Linked DNA regions of Homo sapiens. The protein of the gene in region 4 interacts with the protein of the main gene of each other region in a pairwise test. Each region holds a gene or a part of one and is shown on either strand. Other genes may lie near its edges.

Region 1 (3,716 bases), on a different chromosome or scaffold from region 4:
GCCATTTAAATTCCAGATTGCAAAAGGGCCTCTGGATGCCAGCCATCTGCCGTGTCACTTGGATGTCTGTCTCTTCCTGCAACCTGGGTTTGCCTCTGACCTTATTTGAACAGTGCTGGGTCCCCTTTGCATGCTGATTTATATCAGCAAAAGCCAACCTTTTCAAGCTGTAAAAGGAGGAACCTTTTAACCAGAGAGCCCTTGGATATAAGCCTGATGTTTTAAGTTAGGAAAATAAGCATTTTCCCACAGATCCATTGATCAGTCAGCTTTATTTATTTATTGAGACAGGGTCTTGCTCTGTCACTCAGGCTGGAGTGCAGTGTCACAATCTCGGCTCACTGCAGCCTCAGCCTCCCGGGTTCAAGCGATTCTCCAGCTTCAGCCTCCCAAGTAGCCAGGACCAAAGGCTCACACCACCACGCTGGCTAATTTTTGTATTTTTAGGAAAGATGGGTTTTGCAATGTTGGCCAGGCCGGTTTCAAACTCTGGAGCTGAGAGCGATCTGCCTCCCTTGGCCTCACAAAATGCTGGGATTACAGGTGTGAGCCACTGCGCCTGACCAGCTTTTTAATTCACTAAGTATTTATTGAGCACCTACTACGTGATGGGGGCAATTTTCGGTGATGGGGACAGAGCAGTGAAGAGAATGGACAGAAGTCCCTGCTTTTCTGAGGCTTACATTGCAGAGGGGGTGGAAAACGCAATAAAAAGTTAAAATACACATGGTAGGTTATCTGATGTATACAAAGGAGGCAAAGAGCTGGAAGGGGACTCAGCTGGTGGGTGTTTGGAGGCAAGGGGAGGGAGAGGAATGCAGTATTGTCTGGAGAGAGTGAGCAAGCCTCAGGCCATGTGGGGGAAGAACATTCCAGCTGGAGGGCGCATCAGGGCTAAGCCTGGCTTAGCTGAGGGCCAGCAAGGGGGCCTTGTGCCAGGCATGGGCGAGTAATGGATGGAAGAGGAGGCAGTGAGTCAGAGATAAATGGGTCATTCAGGTGTGCGACAGCCCTGCTAGGTGAGATAGTAAAACTCAATATGCTGATGTAATTTTTAAATGCCTATTTTATAGGTCTGTCTCTTTTCAAATGTTTGTTAAAACAGAAGCCACACTGAGAATTTCTAAGTCTAATCAGAATAAAGATTTGTAATATTTTATGCCCATGTTTATGTGGTTTTAAGCACAATTTGTAATGTTTTCATCATTTCCCGTGCTTGCTCTGAAAGTGGGCTGTTCCAGGGCTGTGAAGGGGTCCGTCCTTTTCCTCATTGCTCAGGTCAGGTGGGAATAGTTTCTGCTTATACTTGCAGGGTGGTTTGAAAAATCTTTGTTTCTGAGTATCTGTGTTCCTCAAACATGCTTAAGCCAGCACTCATTATCTCTGCCTTTCCTCCCTCTGAAAACCAGCAAATGTTTTCTCTTAAAACTTTTTTTTTTTTTTTTTGGACCCAAGGAGCAATGGTACAAACAAAAACTCTGTTTTGAGCTTAGAAACTTGGAGGTGAGAGTAAACTGGAAGCTGCCCGGCCCCTCCCTCATGAATTATTAGCACAAATCAGGAGAAAAATTCCTCTATCAAAGGACAGTGATACGTCCCAGCACTTTCTCCATTAAAACGTGTGGGTGGAATGCACTAGGGACTAGGTCCTGTAAGACTCAGTTGTGCTTCGAAGAAACTGCTAGGGAATGTTTGAAGCATAGATAGACCGGGGGAGGGAGGAGTAACTGTTTCTTGAAGCTGCACCAGATTCCAGGCCTGGTGGCAGGCTGCCCGGTCTAAGCTGGCAGAGCCCCTACACCCCTGACCTTCTTGTACACAGGTGAGATCTGGTTGAAGTAAACATTGGCCTGGAGGCCTTCCTGCAGCAAATCCTGTGTGGGGCACTGGGGACCAGGGTGGTCAACAAATAATCAGGCACGTCCCTGCCTCATGGAGCTTGCCGTCTCCTGGATTCAAGCAAGCAATTGTAGTGGGGTGAGGGGGATTCTAGGAGAGTCACTCAGGGCCCTTTGAGAGGCCAAAGCTTTGTTGAAATAGGGGGCATCAGAGTTGAGGCCTGCAGACCCCAGATAGTCTGAAGAGATAACATCAGCCTTAAAGTGGAGGAGGAAGAGAGCTGACGGTACAGACATTGTCTGCAGGTTGAGGAAGGTTGGGGTGGGGAGAGGTGGAGTGTTAACAGGACCTTTGGTGATTGGTTGATTATAAAGAAAAAACACATGTGTGGTCTTTGCGTCTCTTCAGGGTAGCCTGAGCCAGGGCTGCTGCACTGCCCCCATAGCTCTGACTTGAAGTTTGGCCATCAGAATGGTGGTACTGAAGGCCTTGGGCTTCAGTGGTCCCCCCATACTGCTTATTTCCCTTTGGGGAAGTAGGTGAGTGGAGAAACATTTGAAACTTGTAGAGTGACTTAGCTATAGGACAGCCGGCAAAGCTTGGCCTCTGGAGCCAGACCGCCTGGCATTGAATCCCAGCTCCCTCTTCATAGCTGTGGGACCTCTGGCAGATTATGTAATTTCTGTGCCTCAATTTCTTCTTCTTTAAAATGGGATTGTGTCTCAGTTTTTGCTGTGAAATAACCAAAACCCAAAGCCGTGGGGAAGGGCAGGTGGAGGGAAGACAGCTGTCTTGACATCAGGTGATACAGGCTGAAATCAGAGGTCTGCTGACTTCTAGGGATACTTGGCACATGGAAGCCTCAGTCTCTTTGTCTTTGAATCTGGGGGCTGCAATTCTTGCCTACATCCCTGGGTAGCCTGGAGGATGGTAAGGGATGCTGTGTGAGAGAGTGCTTTGAGAGCTGCCCAGCCTGAGTGGACAAGAGGGCCCCCTGTGTGCTTGGCTGGCAGGGAGGGCTGAGACCCGCTGGGCGCTGCAAACAGAGAAGGTTCCAATGAGATGTCCACTGGGGCCAAACTGGCCATGGGGCCTGGCAGTGGCTCTGTTGTTCTCTTCCCCCAGGTCCTGCCATGACCTTTCTTTGTCAGATTGGCACTGGGAAGGGGGTCAGAGGGAGGGCTCATACAGGCCAGGATTACAGCGGGATGGACTTTGTAGTCACTGGATCAGCAGGGCGTTGCGCTGTGGCCTGCCTGCTGTAATGTGAAAATTAGTTTCCCTGAGTGAGCCCTGCTTTATTTATTTATTTATTTATTTATTTATTTATTTATTTGAGACAGGGTCTCAAAAACCGGAGTGCAATGATGTGATCTCTGCCACTGCAACCACTGCCTCCCAGGTTCAAGCGATTTTCGTGCCTTAGCCTCCCGAGTAGCTGGGATTACAGGCATGTGCCACCACACCCGGCTAATTTTTGTGTTTTTGGTAGAGACCGGGTTTTGCCATGTTGGTCAGGCTGGTCAACTCCTGACCTCAAATGATTCGCCTACTGCAGCCTCCCAAAGTGCTAGTATTACAGGCGTGAGCTACTGCGCCCGGCCTCCCGCTTTGTTTTTGTTTTTTCCTGAGACAGTGTTGGTCTCTGTTGCCCAGGGTAGGGTGCAGTGGCACAATCATAGCTCCCTGGAGCCTCGAACTCCTGGGCTCAAGTGATCCTCCCACCTCAGTCTCCCAAGTAGCTGGGACTACAGGAGTGCGCCACCACGCCTGGCTAATTTTTGTTTTTGTAGAGATGGGGTCTCTCCTTGTTGCCCAGGCTGGTCTCAAACTCCTGGGCTCAAGCAGTCCTCCTGCCTCGGCTTCCCAAAGTGTTG
Region 2 (2,758 bases), on a different chromosome or scaffold from region 4:
CCATTTTTATCACCACAAATTTCTTGGTAACAATGTAGAATTTAATTTTGTAATTAAAACAAAAACTCTCCCCTAGGAGGAATCTGATGACATAAGGATAACACCAAGTTATGTGCACAAACGACAAAAAATGCCAAACTAACTGGAATGATCATCCTTCCTGAAATTTCTCTTAAAAAGCAGAGAAGTAGAACCAATGCTGCCACCTAGTGGCCAGCCAAACAAATCAGGTAGCATACTGGAGAAAAAGGTCATAGTCCCGACAATCTGGTTTCCCTGCCTATTATCAAGCCACCTAACTCCTTACTTTTCCACAAAAAAACACAACCACATATCTTAAGCAAGCCCTCCTCCACAGTCATAATCCAAATACTTGAATACAGCAACCAAAGTCTGTCTTGTTAAACACACTACTTCTCATGAAACTTTCCTCTGCCTATTTTAAGGTAGGTTTGCCCGGTCCTATGGCCCAGTAGAGATGACACAGGAGAACACGGAAACATCCAAAATGTTCACTGGTTCAGAGTGTGTACACAGTAATTTTGATGTCTGTTGCCTCAAATACCTCCTCGATCATCGCAGATACATTTTCCCATTGCAGACGATCAAGACCACATCCAATCCTGAAAAAGACAAAATATCTCCATTGATGGTAACGAAAGTATCTAGGAAACTGCTCCTCTCTTTTAAGCTATATCCACTCAAAGCATAAAAACAAATAATCTAGTCTGACACCCTTATGGGCAACCATGGTAGGAGTTTGGAAGTCAATTCTTGTTGTGAGTCACCGAAGACCATTCCTAGACAGCTCTAACATCCAAAAACTATCACTTCTGTTTGCCTAATAAGATACTACTTTCCAACTATTTCATGCTACATTTAGAAATGTGTAACTGTCATGACATTAGAGACTCATTATCCCTCTATGACTACTGACTAAAATTGGCTGTGGATGGATGGTGAAAGGTTGGTATTTTAAAAATGCACTTATGGTAACAGAATGTTAACGAAAGTAAGGAGAAGAGGAATGAGGTACAGGATCTGCAAAAAAGAAAGTCAAGAGGGAATGCTGGGAAATGGTAAGATAGTTGCAATCCAGGAGTAAGGTCTTTGCAACACCCTGGTAAGAATAAACTCAGTCCATAAAACTCTACTACTTGGCACCTTCCAAGATGTTACTCTAGTGATCCTCAACACGCCTAGGGAAAAAAGAGACCTAAAATTGGTAATTTCATGTCATAATGTGATAATTAAGTCCATAAGGAATTGTGATTAAAAAAAAAGTTTCTGATATGTATGTACACCATAAATATATCAAAGACCAGTGTAAAATAAGGGACATTTGAGGCCATATGCAAAGTAATGTGGGGCGCAAGATAAAACTGCATGTATGCTCAGCATTGACTCAAAACTACCAGGGTGACAGGAAGAAAAGAGGTGAGGCCCATTTCCTGAAAAGAAAGCAAAGGGACTACTGAACCCTCAATGTCATTCCCTAAATTCCCAATAGCTAAAGTCTAAGAAGTTACATCAGGGACAGATCCTCTGGCTATTACCCATACTGACCAAAACAAGTGTGCAGTATAAAAGGGAATGATAATTTACAACTTTCTTGACGCAAAGTAATAGGTTTGGGAGATGGGAAGTGGTCCAAGAGGAAAACCACCATTGCTCAGTCTTGATTCTTTAGCTTACATTGCTTTAGGAATAAAGGCCAAGCTTCAAGCAGAGGGTGCTGAGAATTCAACAAATGTAGCTGAATGACAATGGTCGCTCTCTGCTAAGCAGGCTGAGGCAGATGTATATTTCAAGGTAATTGTCCTGATTCATTCAACTCAAGCTAGAAAATGGCTGTGCCTTAGTCTAAAGCCAGACAACTGGTTCACTGGTGGTTTTACAAAATTTTGACTTTTGTCCACCTTTAAATCTATATTTTGGGTTAAGCTTTTAAGTTGTTTGTCTTTGGGTAAGATAGTAAACCCCACCAATCAATTAAATCTCCATTTAGGACCATGGATTTCCTTGCCTGGGCATGGAGAGGTCAGTGACTCCATTCTTCAGACAATGAGACTTCATTGCCTCTAAACTCTTCTGTAAGTTTTCATAAGTTGGCTTGTGCGAAGCCCTTTTCTTTGTAATCTGAACACAAAGGATTCAAACTTTCATCATCCCAAAATGATAGCCAAAGAAAAGTCATCACATTCCCCCAACATCCCAATAATTAAAAGAGTAAGCACATTTTTATAGAATTAGTCTAGAGCAAGGATGACAAATGTCATATTGCCCTTTCCACACTGTTATGGGAGACCTTCAAGAAAATCCACTAAATAGAGGCTGAGAAACCCAGACTCTGCCACGTAGCAATCTTTCCTTTTCCTAGGAAACCCATGAGATTAGCAGATGATGCCTATTGTCAATATTTTTAAGCAAGGTAGGTGAAGTCTCTGTGCCACTTCCAAGAGATAAGCTGCATATCTCTAACAGGGAAGAAAGCATACCACCTGAAAATTCCCTGCTAAAAGCCTCTACTTATTTAGAAACTGTGCTTGCTTGCTTTTTGTCTCTCTACATAAAACAACAGAAAAAACTGGTAGGGTCCCAAAGTAAAACCACTGGAAGCCACATAAGCTTTAAGGACAGAATTCAAAGGGGCTAGGACATCTCCCCACTCAGTTTGTCATCCAGATCAGGCTTGTAGTGGGTTAGCTGTAAGCTACCCACCACCACCACTAAGGAAGCCACACCCTTTCAGGGACCA
Region 3 (2,757 bases), on a different chromosome or scaffold from region 4:
GCTGTGTAAAACTTCCTTGCAGGGAAAGGCTTTTGATTGGTCCCAAGATACAGGAGGAGGCACACGGCACTCAGTCCACCCGGGGCCCCGTGATGGTGCCCTCCCCACCCAAAGGTTGGTAGTCTGATGATAGCAGGGCCCTCTGGATCCTTCTACAGGGTTCCTGTTCCTGGCCCAGCTGGGCCTAGCTCCTGTTTGGGGAAGTCAGGCTCTGAGAACAGAAAAATCTGGCTTGTTCCTACCCGCTGCCTCTGGCAAAGCACTCGGCCCAGCAGCCTGGGCCACTTTGAGTGATCTCTAACAGGAAAAGCCACCAGACCATGCCTGCTGTGCCCTTCCTGGCTGAACACGCAGCCAGCTGGAGTGCCTGGCAACACAGCAGCTCATGGCCTTGGGGCCCCAGCTTCTATGACAGTGCAGCACAGACAAAGGCACTAGTCTTCAGAGATCAGGCTGGCAGGGGAGAATCCATTCAGGGCAGGAGAAACAAGAAACAGTGGTGAGATTTACCAAAAACTGTTTATTGCGACTTCCACTGGAAGCTGTTAATAAGCCACATGGCAGCCAAGAGCCAGGTGTGACCTAGATCAGCTGGATGCAAGTGCCTGTCCCTTCATCCACACAACCTGCTGCTCGGGGACCCTGCTAGGATGCGCTTGCTGGCAAACTGGCTAAAACCCAACAGGGAGAAATGATGCTACTGCTCATCATTTCCACCTCCCCACATCCCATGTCCAAGACAATACAGGAAAATGCCACAAGTACCCCTCCAAAATAAACCCGCCTGCGTCTGTCTGTCCTACTGAGGAGCCAGGAGTGTCCTACGGCTCTGCAGCAAACCAGAGACCCAGCACCAGCGAGGCACCAGTCCCTTGCTCGCTGTTCCAGTGACCTCCCCTGCAGAGACCCCAGCCTCACCGGTGTACTCAGTCAGCTCCACAATGCAGGAAAAGTGGGAAGCCACACTCAAGGAAGCGCAGGGTTTCTGATTGGAGCTGTAGTTGGTCCCAGGGGACCTGGCAGAGCCCCAACAGCTGTAGCCCTCATCAACTCTTCTGGAAGACACGGTGCAGGCTTTGGGCCAGGATGTCTGTCTCCTCGTAGCCTTCACAGCTTTGCTGCCAGCTCTCTGGCACCTGATCCATCCCATAGTAGGCACCAGCAATGGCCCCAGCCATGGTGGCAATGGTGTCTGTGTCCCCACCAAGTGAGATGGAATAAATGAGAGTCCTTTGGAGGCTATTGAAGGCAGAAGGGATCTCAGGGTCTGGCTCCATGCAGCGTAGGAAGCAGTAGATGGCGGTGGGTACCGACTCAAAGGCAGCAATGCCATTCCCTGTGGGGAAGCCAGGTTAGAGGGGCTGCATGCTTCCCCAGGCCTCCTACCATTTGACACAAGTCAGCACTCTCGGCTTCAAGCAGGCTGTGACTAAGATCTCAGGCTCTACAGTTAGACCACCTGGGCTCAAATCCTGGCTCCACCACACACTGGCTGCGTGACTGGGAGAGTTACCTAGGGGACCGCTAAGCTTCCTGCTCCCAGATTCAACTCCTTAAGCAGACAGGGAGTAACGTTAGCAACTCTCTGACAGGGCTGTTGTGAGGATGAAGCGAGATCGTGTCTGTGAAGCATTCTGCACAACGCCCAGTATAGATGCTAGACAAATAAAATCCATTATCAACATTTTTACGACTAGTGGCCAGCTGCCATTTCTGGGGACACTGGTCCACAAGGCTGAGGGTGCTGTAGCTTCAGAGCAAGAAGCGCTGAGCTCAACCCTGCCATTGACTCCGTGTCACAGCAGCCCAGGGTACAATGCGACGGCAGGCATGACTCCATGCTCCCCTGAGCCCAAGACCGACCCTGAAGGACGACAGAGGGAGAGACAATCCCAGGCAGACCCACTCACCTAGCTCAGACACCACTTCCTCCCTGGTCACCGATGCCTGGTCTAGAAGCTCTCCAATCTTCTTCAGGCGGCTGGAGTATGGACGCTCCTCCATGCCCAACCTGTGGTTTAGGGGAGATTTCAGGGAGGTCAGAGCTAGCAGGGTGGTGGCGCGGGCAGGGGAGAGGGCTGCATGTGAGAACGAGCAGGGATGTGGTCAGGCTGGCAGCCAGGCACAGGTGCCGACAAGAGGTGGGAGAGGGCTGGGGTGAGCAGGTCGTTTCGTTCTCTGGGACCCTGAGAGCCTTGAAACATAGACAAGATAAAGGGGCTTCTGCCCATGCCTCCCTAGGGTCTGCAATTGAGGAAGGTTTACAGTTTGCGGCAATGCCAGAGGCCCCCTGGATCACCCACATACCCACACCACACACCTCCAGCCCCATACTCACTCCCTGGCATCCAAGACGGACTGGGCATCACCCTCCAGATCCTCCATGTGGCCCAGGAGTTGCTTGAGAAAGTGCTCGCTGGAAGACTCGCCCTGCAAGGCCAGGTGCACAGCCAGGGCCTGCAGGATGGCGCCATTGTAACCCAGGGAGGAGGCGTGTGTCAGCTGGGCCGAGAGCCGGGCAAACTAGGGAGGAGGAGACCTGCTGTCACAGAAGCCCTGCTGCAGAAGAGGAAGGGGACAGCCCAGAAGCCAGCCCGCCCTGAATACCTTCTGCACATCCTGGACACTGCTATAGGCCAGGGAGATGCCAGCCACCCGCATGGCACCTCCATTGCCATAGGAGCCTTTCCCGTTAAACTGGGCCCGGGCAGGCTCAAAGACATCGCGACATTTGGGGTTCAGGAGCTTCTTGAAGAC
Region 4 (5,906 bases):
AGTTTCTCCAATTCTGTCTACTGAAACTATTGAAACTCTTTGGAGCTGTGGATAGGAGAAGGAATGATCAAAAACCAGTAGGTGATAATGAGGCATTCATTAAGGAAAAAATCCACAAAGTATTTGGTTATCAGTGAAAAACTTACCATTTTAATATATAGTATTTTCATGGTTTTTGTTTTTAATCATTTTTTTAGGCTGACGATATCAGAGCTTTGCTGATAGATGCCATGCCCCCAGAGGCCTTACCTACCTGTTTTAAACCTCAGGCTACTGTAGTGAGTGCCTCTCTGATCTCACCAGCATCCACCCCCTCCTGCCTCTCGGCTGCCAGCAGCATAGACAACCTCACTGGCCCTTTAGCAGAGTTGGCCGTAGGAGGAGCCTCCAATGCAGGGGATGGCGCCGCGGGAACAGAAAGGAAGGAAGGAGAAGGTGAGTAGACCCCATGAATGCTTATTTATTTATACCTTTTGTTAGTGGAGCAGAATGACTTTTTTCTATTGATAACTATTGAATGCCTCAATTAGAGACGTCCTGTCTGTAAATTTTCATACACACAACATCTTACAAGAAATATTTCTTCATAGAAGGCTGCCACGTTTCTTGGCATTGTCGTTGTTCTTATTTCTGTATATTCTAGAGCATCTGTTTACAACCATAGCATCTTATTGAACCACTTATACTGAAATTGTGTCAGAACACAACTGAGAGGTCATTTCAGGAATGAAAACTAAAATGATAGCTGATACATTTAGATTTTTTAATTCATTAAAAGCTTTAGATGTTTCTATATAAGTAGCATTCTGTAGTATAAGAATTATACTATAATGTTAAAATTAGTATAATATTCTCTATATTTTTATAAATTACAATAAGTTATAATTCTATATTCTAACCATAATATTAGAATACAAATACTAATTTGATAAAGATAAAACACTCTGTTTTTACTTCCCAATCAACTTCAGAAATAAAGTGTCTAAATTAAATCTGTGTATTCTGTATTATTTTATGCCATGGAAAATCATCTGACAGCCAAGGTTGTCAGAGTCATGTCTAAATGGATACTGAAATTTTCTTTATATTTAGAGAATTCTTTCTGAGAATCTTTAATATGTTTCTGTTTTAGTTGCTGGTCTTGACATGAATATCAGCCAATTTCTAAAAAGCCTTGGCCTTGAACACCTTCGGGATATCTTTGAAACAGAACAGGTAAATACTCTTGTATATATTTGAGTCATTTAAATTAAATACTAAGATTAGGCTGGATGCAGTGGTTCACACCTTACTCCCAACACTTTGGAATGCTTCGGCAGGATTGCTTGAGCCCAGGAGTTTGAGACCAGCCTGGGCAACAAAGCGAGACCCCCATCTCTACAAAAAAAAAAGTTTTTAAGTTAGCTGAGCATGGTGACTTACTGGGCCCCTGTAGTGCTAGCTGCTGGGAAGCTGAAGCAGGAAGATCATGTGAGCCCAGGAGTTTGAAACTGCAGTGAGCTGTGATTGTGCCACTGCATTCTAGCTTTGGCGACAAAACAAAACCCTATCTCGAAAAAAAAAAAAAAAAGAAAGACTTATTAATTGCCACCCACCTCTTCCTCTTTTGCTTCTTACGAGCTATTCTTAAACCCACAACACATTTCTATAAGAAGCCAGAGGAGCCCAGTATTTTATACTTCTCCCCAAAATTGTCTAACAAATGAGTCTTTATTTTATCTTTATAAGCAGTCTAGCACTATGCATTTTATTACATGTCAAAACTTAGACCATGCAACTACCTCAAAAGAATGTTTTCATGATTGTCCTTGGTTGTTTGTTTCCGAAAAATGTCAGTCTTTATTCATCTCATTTCATTATTCATGTGACTAGGCTCCTGAAGCAGTTGCCCATTAATTTGGAAAGCACAGTAGTACTTAGACAACTGCACTTTTAAAAAATTGCCCCTTTATGAAGTTTCTGTTGTCCACTTGGAGTCTTAAATAATATTAAACCAAAAGTTGGCCATACATTCCAATAGACCCACCCTATTTTGGGATCCATCTTAAATGTCTGTGAAGGTCTAAGGATGGAGTCATCATTAGGGCATTTATGAATTAGGATTCTTCTGTTTGTTTTACTGTTTTCATACAGGATAAGGAGTTGTAATATTGTATGCTTTCATTATTATGATCAGCTTTAAATATTGAATGATGGTAACTCCTGAATTTAAATGGACTATTGATATACATGAAATTTAAGAATGGGAAAGGTGTTTAGAGAAAAATTATTCTCCCAGGTGTAGGGATCACCCTTGTATAATAACACCCATGTTAGTCCTCCAGCCAAGGAAGATATCTTGTTACAATTTGGGACAGGTGTAATAGAATGCTTGTAACTTAAAGTGTGCCAAAATCTGCCCGTAGGTATAATTCCTTTGTTTTCAGCTTACGCTTACGCTTACCCTGTTTTGCACAGAGATCTAATCTCCAGTCTACATATGTATTCAGTTTCAGAGGACTATACTCCCTACAGAGGCTGTAGGGGAGAATCTATTCCATGCCTCTTCCTGCTTCTGATGGTTGGCAGCTTCCTTGGCTTGTGGCCATGCTACTCCAGTCTCTGCATCCATCTTCACATTGCCTTCCTGTCCTCTCTATCTCTTCTAAGGACATTTGCATTGAATTTGAGGCCACCAGTATAATCCTGGGTGATCTCCTCATCTCTAGACCCTTAACATAATTTCGTCTGCAGACACTTTTCTTCCAAGGAAGGTGACATTCACAGGTTCTGGGGATTAGAACATAGACGTATCATTTTGAGGGCCACCATTCAGCCCACTACAACATAATATGGCCCTAGATATCTTTTTAAGACCTAGTCAACTTATCAGAGGTGTCACCCTTTCAATCACCCACCTCTACACATCTTCCCCTATTTTAGAATAAATCTGTTTTTTCAATTATTCTTTATATGACATAATTTTCCAGTATTTCACTGGCACCTTTGGCCCATTATGGTTCCCTTCTAGGCTTATAGTCAGTTTGGAGTTAACTTAAAAACCAGGTCTTTTTTCTTATTTATATCAATTATACTGTTAAGATTTTTTTTCTGCTTTCTCTCTTTTTTTTAGCTACATTTTTTCATTATAGTTCATCTTTAATGCTCTTAATGATAAGAACAGCCGAGTAGGGATAGCACTGGACTAAAAGAAGACCTTAATTCTAATTATTTTTACCCTCTTACTAGCTGTGTAAAATTGGGCTGAATGACATTTATCCTATCACTTCCTTTACCTGTAAAACCTAATGCTTATAAATGTTCAGAGAGTTAAAATCCTCAGTAATATTGTGCTGCTGTGTCAGCTTTTAATACAGTGATGCATCACAGGTGCCTTTGCGTCTAATGGTTAGGACTTTATAGACTGCTGTCTATAAAATCATTTTCTTTTCCAACCATTTATTCATCCTCTGGTTTGGAGCTTTCTTAGGACAATATCCTAAATAGTAAGACTGCTTCATCCTTATTCCCTAACTGAAGGTGTGAAAGCTGATTTAAAACCATTATACTCTGCTGTTCCCATATTACAGCTATAGCTGTTCTTCCCAAATCATTTCCACAATAATTGTAAAATTTCAAACACATCTTTGCTAAATAAACCAAAGACCTTAACTCAAACAAATAATTCCAATTTACTGATGAAAGTTTTCTAAAGAATGTTCATTTTTCTTCTTTTAGTCAGTTTGCATTATAATTTTATGTGTTCTTTTTAAATTTATATCGTATATTCGCATTGTCAGTAACTGACTTCCTGTGGCGTATTTATCACATTTTATTGATTTGAATAGTTTAATAGTTTAGTCTCCTAGTCACTCCTTCTGACAGCTTGTCCTGGTTTCATCAGTTTCATTGTTCTTTTTTTACTGCAGTTTCATTCTGAGTAAATGGTTCCATTGGTTTTCTTTTAGCCAGAATAATTTCTATAGCCTTTTATTGATCAATACATAGACGATTGCATTTAATGTATATTACCAAGCACAGTTCTTTCCCTCCAGACAGGTGATACTACCTTTCTTTGTATTGAACTGTGTCTGGCCCAATCATCAAGCAATCAAATTTATTTTTATTTTAATTGCAAATGTTATTTATCTAGCCTTCCATTATAAATAAATTTGATAACCTTTTCCATAACTTTAACCCTTAGCATTTTCTCCCATTAACATTCTATATCAGTAATATGTGATGATGGTCAATGTATTTGTATAGTCGGGGAGGAGTGAGGGTGCATGCATTGAACGCATTTAATTCATATCTGTTTGGCTTAAGCCAGGGGAGCCGTTGTTTTCTGATGCTCTTTGACATGCTTCTATGTCTCATTGCCTGTGTTCCTACTCATGGATGCCAGTGGGGTGTGGAATGTAGTTATTTTATTTCTGGTCCCAGAAGAAAACCTTCGGCACATCATAGCCTCACCTCCTATCTTCACAGTTACTCTCTTGGAAGTCTCTAAACTAAATTGTCCTGTTTCCCATAGATACTTTGCCAAGTTCTATGTTGAATAATATAGTATCCTTTCTAGTTAATGAAATATAGTACCCATGTGACTTTGGCCCTTCCTTTATAACATAGCTTTGTACCTATGAACATAGGTAGGAACACTTTTTATATGGGAAAGACAGATTTTATTTACACTGCAATTCCTAGAACATAAATGCTATCACTTGGAAGACTGCTTGTGGACATTTTTATGGTTAACCTATGTATTTTCATGGAAAGTGACCAGATAAATTTTGATTTCAAATTCTTGAAGACAAAAGCATGGCCTCCCATAATTCATTGTGAACTTGATTATAAAGTTAGTTCTTATTACTCCTGCTGTACCATACAACCTTTTAAGCCCAAGCAAGAGGACGTCTTTTTCATTAAAACTAGTTTTCTCTCCCCACCCAAAGTAAAATGACTCTCAGAAGCTAGAGGTAGCTCTTTTTGCAGTGACCTTTGCTTTATGTGCAAGATGACTTTAACTGACACGTGGATAATCTTTATTCTTAGTAATTTTATTTTAATGTATACTAGATAGAAATAACTAGCCCAACAAGCTTGTGATTTCCTCAGTATAATAACTAAGTCAAGGTTTTAAAAAAGGAGCAAGTTAATTTAAATATGATTTTCAGAAAAAAAAATGTCTAACAGCTGATAGGGGTATATATAAAATTCCTGAGTCTTGAAGCAACATGTCTAAAATCCAACTAACCTGCTTTCCATCCAGATATTTCTATTTCTTTTGTTGATGCAAAAGTCTCATAGTTACCCAGCTACAGAATTTTGGAATAATCTTACTTTCATTCCTTTTATTTTAACCATTTCTATTTACCAGGCCCTGTAAATACAGTTCTCCAGTTGCTTTCAGATTCATCCCTTCCATGCCATTTTATCTTCTTCTTATTCCCAGTTGCCTTCCCTTCCAAATCTGCCCTTCATAATGCCAACAGTCTCATCCTCCTAAAATACAACTTTGATCATATTACTCTGCTGAAAAGACTTCCCAGGGCCTTTGGTATACTTTTTTTGTTTTTGTTTGTTTTTTTTTGTTTGTTTGTTTTTGAGATGGAGTCTAGCTCTGTTGCCCAGGCTGGAGTGCAGTGGCGTGATCTCAGCTCACTGCAACCTCCGCCTCCCAGGTTCACACGATTCTCTTGCCTCAGCCTCCTGAGTAGCTGGGATTACAGGCATAGGCCACCATACCCGGCTAATTTTTGTATTTTTAGTAGAGATGGGGTTTCACCATGTTGGTCAGGCTGGTCTCAAACTCCTGACCCCGTGATCTGCCCGCCTTGGCCTCCCAAAGTGCTGAGATTACAGGCATGAGCCACCACACCTGGCCAGCCTCTGGTATACTTCTAAGCCTCTTAGTTTGATAGATAAGG

The links. Proteins that work in one complex are often made in the same cells at the same time.
Region 1: the proteins of TNKS (region 4) and SH3BP5 interact in a two-hybrid assay, tested with the Homo sapiens proteins (2 studies listed by BioGRID and IntAct).
Region 2: the proteins of TNKS (region 4) and OARD1 interact in binary tests that used the Homo sapiens proteins (3 or more experiments, as listed by UniProt).
Region 3: the proteins of TNKS (region 4) and ADPRS interact in binary tests that used the Homo sapiens proteins (3 or more experiments, as listed by UniProt).

Annotation. Positions count from the first base shown.
Region 1 is NC_000003.12:15,322,587-15,326,302, reverse strand, and holds part of SH3BP5 (SH3 domain-binding protein 5), read left to right. Parts: intron 1-3,716. UniProt on the Homo sapiens protein: Functions as a guanine nucleotide exchange factor (GEF) with specificity for RAB11A and RAB25. Inhibits the auto- and transphosphorylation activity of BTK. Plays a negative regulatory role in BTK-related cytoplasmic signaling in B-cells.
Region 2 is NC_000006.12:41,066,815-41,069,572, forward strand, and holds part of OARD1 (ADP-ribose glycohydrolase OARD1), read right to left. Parts: intron 2,140-2,758; coding exon 2,027-2,139; intron 624-2,026; coding exon 521-623; 3' UTR 1-520. UniProt on the Homo sapiens protein: ADP-ribose glycohydrolase that hydrolyzes ADP-ribose and acts on different substrates, such as proteins ADP-ribosylated on glutamate and O-acetyl-ADP-D-ribose.
Region 3 is NC_000001.11:36,091,676-36,094,432, reverse strand, and holds the end of ADPRS (ADP-ribosylhydrolase ARH3), read right to left. Parts: coding exon 2,608-2,757; intron 2,524-2,607; coding exon 2,339-2,523; intron 2,012-2,338; coding exon 1,911-2,011; intron 1,337-1,910; coding exon 1,047-1,336; 3' UTR 501-1,046; downstream 1-500. UniProt on the Homo sapiens protein: ADP-ribosylhydrolase that preferentially hydrolyzes the scissile alpha-O-linkage attached to the anomeric C1'' position of ADP-ribose and acts on different substrates, such as proteins ADP-ribosylated on serine and threonine, free poly(ADP-ribose) and O-acetyl-ADP-D-ribose.
Region 4 is NC_000008.11:9,751,412-9,757,317, forward strand, and holds part of TNKS (poly [ADP-ribose] polymerase tankyrase-1), read left to right. Parts: intron 1-197; coding exon 198-435; intron 436-1,132; coding exon 1,133-1,215; intron 1,216-5,906.